2 linked regions of the Homo sapiens genome follow. The protein of the gene in region 1 purifies or fractionates together with the protein of each later gene. This does not show direct contact. Each region holds a gene or a part of one and is shown on either strand. Other genes may lie near its edges.

The links.
Region 2: the proteins of WDR70 (region 1) and AMOTL1 purify together in Homo sapiens (affinity purification with mass spectrometry, with the first as the bait; one large-scale study listed by BioGRID). This does not show direct contact.

The regions. Positions count from the first base shown.
Region 1 is NC_000005.10:37,746,111-37,749,943, forward strand, and holds part of WDR70 (WD repeat-containing protein 70), read left to right. Parts: intron 1-3,833.
Region 2 is NC_000011.10:94,774,718-94,778,550, forward strand, and holds part of AMOTL1 (angiomotin-like protein 1), read left to right. Parts: intron 1-3,833. UniProt on the Homo sapiens protein: Inhibits the Wnt/beta-catenin signaling pathway, probably by recruiting CTNNB1 to recycling endosomes and hence preventing its translocation to the nucleus.

The sequences.
Region 1 (3,833 bases):
ATTAAGAAACTCACTCAAAAACCACACAATTTCATGGAAATTGAATAACCTGCTCCTTATTGACTCCTGGATAGATAGTGAAATTAAGGCAGAAATAAAGAAGTTCTTTGAAACCAATGAGAACAAAGAGACAATGTTCCAGAATTTCTGAGATATAGCTAAAGCAGTATTAAGAGGGAAATTTCTAGCACTAAATGCCCACATTAGAAAGCTAGAAAGATCTCAAAACGACACCCTAACATCACAATTAAAAGAGCTAGAGCGGCAAGAGCAGACTAATCCAAAAGCTAGCAGAAGACAAGAAATAACTAAGAGAAGAATTGAAGGAGATAGAGACATGAAAAACCCTCCAAAAAAATCAACAAATCCAGGAGCTGGTGTTTTGAAAACATTAACAAAATAGATAAACTGCTAGCTAGACTAATAAGAAGAGAGAGAAGAATCAAATAGATGCAATAAAAAATAATAAAAGGGATATCACCACTGACCCCACAGAAATACAAACTACCATCAGAGAATACTATGAACACCTCTGAGCAAATAAACTAGAAAATCTAGAAGAAATGGACAAATTCCTGGACACATACACCCTCCCAAGACTAACCCAGGAAAAAGTTGAATCCCTGAATAGACCAATAACAAGTTCTGAAATTGAGGCAGTAATTAATAGCCTATCAACTAGAAAAAGCCCACAACCAGATGATTCACAGCCAAATTCTACCGGAAGTACAAAGAGAAGCTGGTACCATTCCTTCTGAAACTATTCCAAACAATTGAAAAGGAGGGACTCCTCCCTAACTCATTTTATGAAGCCAGCATCATCTTGATACCAAAACCAGGAAGAGAAACACACACAAAAAAGAAAACTTCAGGCCAATGTCCCTGATGAACATTGATGCAAAAATCCTCAATAAAATACTGCCAAACCGAACCCAGCAGCACATCAAAAAACTTAATCCATGTCATCAAGTCAGCTTCATCCCTGGGATGCAAGGCTGGTTCAACATACGTAAATCAATAAACATAATCCATCACATAAACAGATCCAAAGACAAAAACCAAAAACATATTTACAAGAAAAAAACAAAAAAGTGGGCAAAACATATCAACAGACACTTCTCAAAAGAAGACATTTACGTGGCCAACAAACGTATGAAAAGAAGCTCAACATCACTGATCATCAGAGAAATGCAAATAAAACCACGAGATACCATCTCACACCAGTCAGAATGATGATTATTAAAAAGTCAGGAAGAATAAATGCTGGGAGGCTGTGGAAAAATAGGAACACTTTGATTATCTCAGTAGATGCAGAAAAGGCCTTAGATAAAATTCAACACCCCTTCATTTTAAAAACTGTCAATAAGCTAGGTATTGATGGAACATATCTCAAAATAATAAGAGCTATTTATGACAAACCCACAGCCAATATTACATTGAATGGGCAAAAGCTGAAAGCATTCCCTTTGAAAACTGATACAAGACAAGGATGCCCTCTCTCACCACTCCTATTCAACGTAGTATTGGAAATTCTGGCTGGGGCAATCAGGCAAGAGGTATTCAGATAGGAAGAGAGGAAGTCAAGTTGTCTCTGTTTGCAGATGACATGATTTTATATTTAGAAAACCTCATCATCTGAACCTAAAAACTTCTTGAACTGATAAGCAACTTCAGCAAAGTCTCAAGATACAAAATCATTGTGCAAAAATCACAAGTATTCCTTTACACCAACAGTAGACAAGCAGAGAGTCAAATCATGAATGAACTCCCATTCACAGTCACTACAAAGAGAATAAAATACCTAGGAATACAGCTAACAAGGGATGTGAAGAACCTCTTCAAGGAGAACTACAAACCACTGATCAAGGAAATATGAGAGGACACAAACAAATGGAAAAACATTCAATCCTCATGAATAGGAAGAATCAGTATGGTGAAAATGGCCATACTACCCAAAGTAATTTATAGATTCAATGCTATTGCCATCAAACTACTGTTGACATTCTTCACAGAATTAGAAAAAACTATTTTAAATTTCATATGGAATCAAAGAAGAACCCCGTATAGCCAAGACAATCCTAAGCAAAAAGAACAAAGCTAGAGGCATCACGTTACCTGACTTTAAACATACTACAAGGTTACAGTAACCAAAACAGCCATATAGACCAATGAAGCAGAACAGAGTCCTCAGAAACCTACACATCTACAACCATCTGATCTTCGACAAACCTGACAAAGACAAGCAATGGGGAAAGGATCTCCTATTCAGTAAATGGTGCTGGGAAAACTGGCTAGCCATATGCAGAAAGCTGAAACTGGACCCCTTCCTTATACCTTATACAAGAATTAACTCAAGATGGATTAAAGACTTAAATGTAAAATTCCAAACCATAAAAACCCTAGAAGAAAACCCAGGCAAGACCATTCCTAGGACATAGGCATGGGCAAAGACTTCATGACAAAAATGCCAAGAGCTATTGTAACAAAAGCTAAAATTGACAAATGGGATCTAATTAAACTTAGAGAGCTTCTGCACAGCAAAAGAAACTATCATCAGAGTGAACAGGCAACCTACAGAATGGGAGAAAATTTTTGCAATCTACCGATCTGACAAAGGTCTAATATCCAGAATTTACAAGGAACTTAAACATATTTACAAGAAGAAAACCCATCAAAAAGTGGGCAAAGGATATGAACAGACACTTCTAAAAAGAAGTCGTTTATGCGGCCAAGAAACATGAAAAAAAGCTCAACATCACTGATCACCAGAGAAATGCAAATCAAAACCACAATGAGATACCACCTCACGCCAGTGAGAATGGTGATTATTAAAAAGTCAGGAAACAATAGATGCTGGCAAGGCTGTGGAGAAATAGGAACACTTTTATACTGTTGGTGGGAATGTAAATTAGTTCAACCATTGAGGTAGACAGTATGGCGATTCCTCAAGGATCTAGAACCAGAAATACCATTTGACCCAGCAATCCCATTACTGGGTATATACCCAAAGGCATATAAATCATCCTGCTCTAAAGACACATGCACACGTATGTTTATTGCAGCACTGTTTACAGTAGCAAAGACATGGAACTAACCCAAATGCCCGTCAGTGATAGACTGGATAAAGAAGTATAGTATTCCATGTGGAATACTATACAGTCATAAAAAGGAATGAGATCTGTCCTTTGCAGGGACATGGATGAAGCTGGAAGCCATCATCCTCAGCAAACTACACAGTAACAGAAAACCAAACGCCTCATGTTCTCACTCATAAGTGGGAGTTGAACATTGAGAACACAGAGAGGGGAACACCACACACCAGGGCCTTTTGGACGTTGGGGTGTGAGGGAAAGGAACTTAGAGGACAGGTCATGCAGCAAACCACATGGCACATGTATACTGATGTAATGAACCTGCACATTCTGCACATGTATCCTGTTTTTTTTTAAGAAGAAAAAAAATATTATGCATACGTATAATGTGGCCATTTTGCTGGCAACATTATGATTAGTTCAAAAGTAGAAATTAAATGTCATGGAGTTTTGCAAAAAGGACTATGATGTTTAACTGTCTTACCTTCCAAACAACTTAATATTCCCTACATTTTAATTCCTAGTGGGGACCAAGGAAACTGTTGTGATCTAGTGATTAGAAATGACAGTTGAAGTGACCCTGATGCAAACATTTACTCAATGAATTAACTGAGTTCAATACTAGGTGAAAAAAAAAACCAAAAACGCAGTATCTCCTTTGAAAAACAAATATTTGTCCTTTTTCTTTTCTCATGGCTGCTAGGAAATTCAGTGCTAAGTTTAATGCTCAATTACCCTTTC
Region 2 (3,833 bases), on another chromosome or scaffold:
AAGCAATGCTGATGCTGCTGGTACTGGAAACACATGTTAAGAATGACCATTTTAAAACATAGCCCCTTTAAATTGGGCCTGGACTGAGATGCTTACCCTTTGGAATGGAGTTTGTTCATCTATAAGTAATTGAGTTTGAAACAGATCTATTTCTAAGGTTATTAGTTGATATAGCTATATTTCTTCCTCTAATCACTCTTCTTTTGTGCCTCACTTTCCTGACCATGACTTTTTCTTCTATCATTTGTCTCTCACTCCTTGGAAGACATGCCACAACTGGGTATATGGCTACCATATTGCCTTGGTAAATCACTTAGGCTCTATAAAGTAAGTGTATTTACTAAATATTTATCTTCTAAGGTTATTGTGTGGCTTAAATGACATAGTGAATGTGAAAGAGCTTCATAAGAAGTGAAATTTTGTGTAAAATAGTTTTCTTAAAATTATTTTCTGCATCATCAGTATCTTTTTGGAGCAGTGTCTCTGACTGACGGTAAGTTTCATTGCTACTTGGGGGACTTGGTAACGATTGCATAGACATATGCAGGGACCATGGACATACTCAGGGACATCATGAAGAAGGTTCCTGCAGTGGATGGATGGTTAAGCTAGGGTCTGAGTGCCTTCCAAATGGAAATGTTTTGGAGGCTGATTGATAAATAGTTGTAGTAAGGACCAAAGGAGAGCCCAGTGCTGGAAAATTGCTTGAGCAGATGTTGAAATATTAGAGATTCAGCTTCCTCAGAGTAGAGAAATATAACTCTGTGACTTTTTTTTTTTCTAGCAGTTTAGGACAGATGTGATCTGGCCCACATCTATGTTTTTAAAGTTCTAGACCTATGCTGTCTGTAGTAACCACTAGTCACTTGTGGCTATTTAAATTAATGAAAATTAAACGAAATGAAAAATTCAGGACCTCAGTCACACTAGCCACAGTTCAAGTGCTTAATAGCCATTTCCATCACTGCAGCAATTTCTGTTGAGGAGTGTTGTTCTATAGTGAGATTGGCTCTGTTGTCTGATGGCAACACCACTGGGCTTCAGATGATAAGACAGGGACACATTTTTGAATGAAATGTACCACATCTCCCTTGGAGGGCTGGTATGAACTGATTGGGAATGCTCTATTCACTTGAACCCCATTTTACCACTTCTGTTTTGGAGGCTCATTCCATTTGAAAGCTGGGTCAGCATGGCAACTGGGTTATGCTGGCGGCAAAGCTTACCAGGCCATTATCAGGAGATGTCTGCTGTTTCTAGGGATGTTCCACTCATGGGATTCTTCCAGGGATCTGGTCCTTGAGAGAAGCAAATAGAAATGCTTGGGTGGAATTAGCACGGAAAGGTCCTCCTGAAGAGGACCATCAAAGGTCATCCTGAACTTCTCCACCTTGGATCCGTTCCACTGTTGAACCAAGCTTTGTCAATGAGAGGCAGGCAGCTGGCGCTTGTTCATCTCTCCAGTGTTTGCACATGCTCAGATACCATTCCACACTTCATCATCCTATTGTCTCCTTTGAAAGTGTTCTGTAAACTGTAATAAGGTTCATCTCCTTGCCCACCCTACATCCAGTCAGTCTTTAGGTCCTGCAGTTGACCTCCAAAATACTTCTTGCATACTTTCCCTTCCTTTGCATGTCTCTACAGCTAAACCAGTTTAAGGGCTAATTACCTGTTTCCTGGACTATTGTGATAGCCACTCACATAACAGGTCTTCCCACTTCTGTTTTCTTGCACCTCTTCTGACCTACTCTGTCCTTCCTTCTTTCCCTGCTTCCTCCCACCTTTCCTCCACCCTTCTCAGAATAGGCCCAGCAAGACAGGGATGATAGATATCTTGTCTTCCAAGCTTGCTTTGCTTTCTCTTTGTGAGGTAGGGCTCTGCACACGCCCTGTGGCCACGTGCCAGGGAGGAAGGAGGCATCTCACATTCAGCTGCTGCTTCTCAGCTGTGAGGGCTGCTCTGGGTGGTATGACCCAGCAATGTGACCCCTGACAGCAGGTGTGAAGCAGGCCTTTTCCTTTCTGACACGGGTGGTGTTCTGGAGGGCTCTGAGAACCAAGTGTTTTGTGAGCAAGCCTCCTCTATCTGCTGGTCTTGGGAAAAGTAGAGAATATGAAATCCTCTGGTAAGGCCCTGTTTCCTGAGGGACTGGCTCCTAAATATCACTGCAGTTATAGGTTGATTACTCATCCTGGTGATGTGGGAAAGGTTGGAACATAGAAGAAGGGCAGACAAAGAGATTAGGAAATGTGCTTTTTATGGAAATTACTGGATGCAGCACTCAGTGCATATCATTAAATTCATTGCAGAAAAACACATGTAAAACCAATCTAGCTTCTTGAAAAGAGAAATGGTCTAATGGTCTTTTTATCTAAAAGAGCAAAGAAAATGCCTTCTGAAATCACAGTAAGCTTCAATTAAGACACCTGGGAAAGTAATTTTAAAAGCATCACACAACCATTTATACAAACATTGAAGATAATGGCGGTGTCAGGTTTGTTTAAACTAGTAGGTTTGTTAAAGGACATAATCCTGTCAGGCTTATCTTCCCGTGGTATTGACTGGCCTGGCAGATCAAAAATGAGTGGTAAGTGGCATAAAAATGGTGAATAAATATACCTTAGCTGACTTTTAGAGTTGATCCTGTATGATAGTCATCAAAAAACTGAAGAATAGAGTCTAAAAAGTCTACTTTGAGATATATATTAGCTTAACCCTGAGTTGAGGCATTACATTTCCCCAAATTCTAACATTTCTTACTTTCAAATTTCTCCAAAATAAATTCCAGGAGTTTGGAGAAAAAAATTGAAATAAAGACAAATATTTACATTTTAATGACATTTATTAAGTGACTAAAATAACTTTATTAGTTTAGGAACAAAAAATGGGTTATGTGTAATTGTTTGTTCATAAAATAAAATACTGAATTTCTTGTATTAAATTTAGTAATTTATTTAGGCAGTAGTCACAATTATGCTAATTGAATTTACTTTGAATATTTTCAATTTCTCTTATAGAAGAGACATTAGGGAGCATGACATTTCTTATTTTGGACAGAATATAAATTAGGCAGAAATTTGGATACAGAATCACTCACTCCTTAAATATCTGTTGAGTGAATAACTCTGCTTTGTACAAGTCAATACTGAGGTGGAGAATTTGATGGGGTTACAATAAAAGGATATATAGTTCATCCATCTGATATTTGAGGGTCTGTCATGTGCCAGGAACTGGGCTAGGTGTGGGATATATATCCTTTGCTCCCCATGGAATTCATATTCTATAAAAGGAATGTAATGTATTAAGATGTTAGAAAACAAAAGACAAATGAACTGGGTTCGTTCTGCTCTAAGAAGAGAAGAAAGGATTCATAACTGTCTTTCAAGTATTTATTTTATTTTCACTTTGAAATGAGCTTAAATCACAGATATCATGACTTCTACAAGCTTAGAAGAGTTCTCTCCTGGGGAGGGTGGATAAATACAGATTAGGAGGATATGGAGGGCAAAGAGGCAACCAAAGAATTAATAGAAGTGTGGGGGTATCTTACTAGAAATCTGCTTAAATTGAGAAAATATGATGTAATGTCCTGCCTGATGGTGGGAAGAGGACCCTAATAGGCTAACTGTGGTGTGCCCTTTGGATATCTTTTTTTGATTTCAGTAATTATCTATGGAGCTTAATGGTTAAGACTCCAGAACTGGAAACCTGTATTCACACCCAAACTGTGCCACTCACTAGCTTTATAATCTTGGCTAAATTACTTAACCTCTCTGTCAAGTAGAATTTCCTCATGTGATATATAGGGATCTTAATTACACCTACCTCA